Linked DNA regions of Homo sapiens. The protein of the gene in region 1 purifies or fractionates together with the protein of each later gene. This does not show direct contact. Each region holds a gene or a part of one and is shown in the gene's direction. Other genes may lie near its edges.

Region 1 (2,313 bases):
TCTCTTACAGAAGAGGAGTTTTATAGTCTGATGGTAAATGTCTTCATTTTACCTTTTTAATTGAAATGTCAAGTTTCCTGTTACACTATGGAAACCAAGAAACATCAGACATCATTGCGTGTACAGACCTTTTGCATGGGTGAGTGGATGAAATGGAGAACAGAGTGAGTGCTGTGAACGGTGTGAAATAGAAGCCAACTTCTAGTATGCTGTCTTCATCTCTGCAATAAACTAAACGTAAATAATGTAACTTTGTATAATTTAGTAGTATGTACTTGGATTGTTTCTTTTTGAAAAGTGAGGATTTGTATTTTCTCATCTATTCTTTTTGGTGTTAATTAACTTGAGGGATTTCTTTTTTAAGTTTTTAATATCAAAAATTGCTATTGTATAGTTTGCCTAAAAGGAAGTTGGAGTGAATATCATCTTTGAAGGACACTCAAATTTATAAGGTAGAAGCAATTTCCCAGATATAGGCTGAACAGAAACATTTACTTTGCCAGAAGGAGCCTTTAGGAGTATATGTGGGCTAATCAGAGGTTAATAATGTCCTCATCTCCTACTCTCCATTTAAAAAACAAACTTCATTGTAGTAAATTCAAATAGGAAAAAATGGGGGAGTAGTTAAGCAAAATCAACAGTCATCCTACTATGTTGAAAGAACCAATGTTAATATTTTGATAAATATCATTTGTCCTTTTACTTTGCTAAATATGTATATTTTTATAAAAATGGGCTCATATTGTGCATACCATTTTGTAACCTGCTTTTTTCACTTAACAATATATTGGGAACATCTTTTCCAGGTCATGCATAGTCTTCTGCATCATTTTTATTGGTTTATTATTCTGCTGTATGACTCAATCATAATTCATTTAATCTTCTATTGGATATTTTGACTATTTACATCTTTTCACAGTTATAAACAGCACTTCACTGAATCCCATGTACATCCATGACTGTTTTCTTAAATTCTTTGAATTGCTGGGTTACCAAATATGCAAAATTTTAAGGCTTTTGATACTTCGTTATGAGTGTATTTTTGAGATATTTTCCACTTGATCCAAGCAGTGTGTCACTATATAACTGATAAAAGCACTTGGTCTTTGATTATCAGATACTGTCTCTAAAATTATTTTAAAGATTAATATTTGTTCAAGTAGAGAATGAAGATAAAAAAGGAATTTGAGGCCAGGTATGGGGTGTCTCATGCCTATAATTCCAGCACTTTGGGAGGCCAAGGCAGGCAGATCACTTTGAGGTCAGGAGTTTGAGACCAGCCTGGCCAACATGGAGAACCCCCCGTCTCTACAAAAAATACAAAATTAGCAGGGTGTGGTGGTGCACACCTGTAGTCCCTTACTCCCTGGTGGCTGAGGCATTATCCCTTGAACCTGGGAGGCAGAGCCTAAAGTGAGCCGAGATCGCGCCACTGCACTCCAGCCTGGGTGACACAGCAAGACTCTTGTCTCAAACAAACAGGAATTTGAGTAAATTTTAAATTAGTATATACTACAACAAATTTCCAAACTTCATAATTTGCTAGTAGTGCTAACTAAAATTTTACACCAGGTAAAATCAGGTCACCTTTTTTATGTATTGACTTCATTGTTGGACTTCATACTCTGATGGGAAAGAAAATGGACATTCTGAATGTGTCAGGTGCATAATATCCTAATTTATGCTTGTCAGAGCTGGGGTCTCTGTCTTCCTTGGCCCATGTTGCATTTAACTGAATGTCATGTTTTCTCCTCTGGAACTTCTTATGTATGCAAGCTCCCATGTTAACCTATCATAAAAATGTTTTTTATAATTTTGTAAACATTGCTTTCTTGAGTATCTAAGAGAGAAATGGGTTTCCGTGAGTGAGTTCCAGGTAGTAGAAGGGGACTTAGGTAGCTTCTATCTTAGATAGCTTCTATCTATCCCCTCACTACCTCACTCTAACGGAGATGCTTTAAAATCCTCTTGAGTCCAATGAGGATTGTTTTTTAAATGCTGCCTTCCAAATGTCACATACTTAGATATGACAGTGTTTGAAGCTATTTGTATTTTTTTTCCCCTCCTACACTGTATTATGTGTGCAGTGTTTTCCTTTCTTCAAAAACATGCCTTATTGCCTGTTTTCTGGGTTGTCTTAGTGAGTTAAAGGAGTACCAATTAACTTTAATAATTCTAATTGAATATAGTTATGAGGGCCCAATTAAAAGGACTTCTACAGCAGTAGAAATTAGGCATGAAAAGTGGAAAGAATAGTTTCTCCCATTTGCTAAGAATGAAATCTTGCAATGCAAGATTTTTAAAAAATATTTT
Region 2 (3,154 bases), about 38 Mb from region 1:
CAAGTCACTGGGAAGGTGAGAGCTGAGGTTTGCAGAGGTGGGAAAAGCCACCTGCCCCACCACATCAACCCTTTGGGAACCATTCCTTCCTTTGAAGGGTGGCCAGCCAGGGCTATGCCAAGAAGAGAGAGCTCTCCACTAACTAGACATTTGAGAAAACCATCATTCTGAGCATGTGAGAGCCACATTGCCTCCAAACCTTTAATGAAGTGAGACTTCCACCCTCTGACATCCTAGTCATGTTCCCAGTACTAACTGATAGTTACTAGTAGAATTCTAAGGTCAGCAGAAAGATACATTAATAAAACAACTATCCACATTGTCTTATCCACATTGTCTTAAGGACAGTTAAGGAAACAATATGACCTACCACCATTTTCATCTGAATTGTGTCTAAAGGGTTGGAATTCAGGAGTTTCAGCAGCTCACATCAAGCAAAGTTTCTGGGAATGTTTTGAAAAGCTGATCACATTCCATCTAGTACAAGGTCTTTGTTAAGTTCATGGCCTGAAAATTCTGTTTCCTTCCGGATTTGAAAGTACCTTGGTTTCCGGATAGTATAGAAAAATCAAACAGTTAGAAATTGAATAATTACAGCACAATCCAGGAGGTTTGCCAGCTTGACTGAGTTCTATCAATTTTTTAACCGTAAGAAGGAATAAAATATACTTGCTGGCTTTTATGCCGTGGTCTGTTTCAGAGTAGTCACCTAAGTCCACACCTCATGTCAGAATGAGAAGTGAATCATCTGGGGACAAACGAGGTGTGTATCTGCCTAACAGCTTAGTGACTTTCTGGAATTTAAATATTAAGTGAAAGGACAGGGTCACAGGGCAGCTGATCTTTGGCTCGTCTCTCTTTCGTCTGCCCATGGCTTTGATCATGCTACATCCTCCTTTGTGGCCAGGGCTCCACAGAGAATCTCAGGGTCATGGCCTGTTGCCTAGTCAAGAGGTATAAACCTGCTGCTTAAATATGTGAAGCCCACAGTTTGGGGGTTGGGAGTTAAAGGGGAGGTAGCCTCATACGTTCCACTTTTCCCACAAAACCCAAAGCAGACTAAACAAAACCGGTGTGAAATCTCATGACTTGATGCTGCCGTGGTTATATTTTTCAAGCTGTAATCCATTCATTTGTATGTGTGTTTATTCCCAGGATTTACAGCTCGCTCAGTCTTCGGGGGGAAAGAGAATATTTGAAACCTTTTGCAAAGGGTTTGAAGTATGCAGTGGCCTGTGATTAAAGCCCAGGATAGAGTGTGTGTGTGTGTGTGTGTATGTGTGTGTGTGTGCATTCATGTGAATGTGTGAGTGCCCATTCTTGTGGGGTTTTTTTCTCCCATTTGCTGCTTTTACGCAAAAGCATCACACATGGTAGCATTTAGGAGCCCCTTCACAGCTGAAGTGTTTCAAACACTAATGAATGGAAGTTTGGTCATATAATGCAGACAAGCTTTAAGGCATGCTTTACTGAATGGTGTACTGTAGTGACCTGGGAAAGGAAGAGAGGTATAAATTGTGTCGGTTAGCCACCCAGACAAAATGAAGCCATGTGGAAAATCAAATCTATTAAAGTATGAAGACTGTTATAAGCTGTTTTAAGCTGGCCATTCTTAAAGGGGCTCGGTCTGCTGCAGGAGTAAATGTTTACCTCTTCCCCCAGATCTTTTTCACATGCCGTCTTATGAGACAATGTGCAGCATTTGATAAAAATCATCCTCTCACTAACGACGCTTTTATCGGAAATGTTTATTGTCTCCGCTTTACCACCCATGTCCTGAAAGGTACTGCACATTTGTTAAATAAGCAAAAGGAAAGAGAACTTTGCGGCTCAAGCCGGCTCGCAGAAACCCCAACAAATTCCAGAGCCATAAGGAATCAGAAAAAGGAAAAGGGAAGGAGGAGTTAGATTTATATGAAGAGGGGGCCTTGCAAAAACATATATATTAGATTTTCTCTGCTTGGCTAGCCCACCATCAAATGTTTGGTCGATGCGGATTAGTATTGAGATTGAGCAGTTAACGCCGAACTTGGGTCACTGTCTCAAAATGTGCTTTAATAAATACAAGGGGGAGGAAATGGATTTGGGAAGGCTCGTTGTCAGCTCTGCCCCTGCTCTCACACTGCCTCTGCACAGTGGTGTAGGGGTCACACACAGGTGTTGGCACCAGTACCAACCCGACCCAAATCCTGGTCCCACACACCCTGTAATTTTGGGCACATTACTTGTCTGTGCCTTGGTTTTCTCAGATGTAAAACAGGAATATTAACAGAAGGTGCCTAAGCATCTGGTAAGCACTCTAAAAATACCAGCTATTATTACCAGTATCTGGAGGGTGGGTTCATTTATACCTTAAGAAAGGATCCCCCTAACTCTATTTTTCTTGTGTGCCGGTTTTTAAAACTGATGAATGGCATGCTGTCGGGAAAAATTTATCCATTCCTACTTTTTTTCTAATTGGTGAGTAAGCGTGCATTGCCCTGACATTCTCTGGACAGCAAACAATTGAATTTGCTGACCAGCCGCCATGATGTCAAGCCTTAAGTCAACAGTGGCTAATGACCGCTCTGGGAAAAAACAACACCTTGATTCCTCAATTACGGTTTAAGAAGCCCTGGGAATGAGGGCTCGCCAGTCATCGTCATCCTCTTTTGAGGCAAGCATAATGTGCTGTGGAAACAGGTTACCTCTGCACTGTTGGCAAGAGCAGCCCACACAGTATAACGATTGAGCGTCATGGCTGTGCCCTTTGTGTGTTCCAGGAGGAAACTGAAGAGACATCCTCACAAGAGTCTGCCGAAGAGGACTAGGGGGCGCCAACGTTCGATTTCTACCTCAGCAGCAGTTGGATCTTTTGAAGGGAGAAGACACTGCAGTGACCACTTATTCTGTATTGCCATGGTCTTTCCACTTTCATCTGGGGTGGGGTGGGGTGGGGTGGGGGAGGGGGGGGTGGGGTGGGGAGAAATCACATAACCTTAAAAAGGACTATATTAATCACCTTCTTTGTAATCCCTTCACAGTCCCAGGTTTAGTGAAAAACTGCTGTAAACACAGGGGACACAGCTTAACAATGCAACTTTTAATTACTGTTTTCTTTTTTCTTAACCTACTAATAGTTTGTTGATCTGATAAGCAAGAGTGGGCGGGTGAG

What was found.
Region 2: the proteins of NFYB (region 1) and HMGA2 fractionate together in Homo sapiens (co-fractionation; one large-scale study listed by BioGRID). This does not show direct contact.

What each region holds. Positions count from the first base shown.
Region 1 is NC_000012.12:104,116,586-104,118,898, reverse strand, and holds the end of NFYB (nuclear transcription factor Y subunit beta), read left to right. Parts: 3' UTR 1-1,813; downstream 1,814-2,313. UniProt on the Homo sapiens protein: Component of the sequence-specific heterotrimeric transcription factor (NF-Y) which specifically recognizes a 5'-CCAAT-3' box motif found in the promoters of its target genes.
Region 2 is NC_000012.12:65,960,483-65,963,636, forward strand, and holds part of HMGA2 (high mobility group protein HMGI-C), read left to right. Parts: intron 1-2,762; coding exon 2,763-2,810; 3' UTR 2,811-3,154.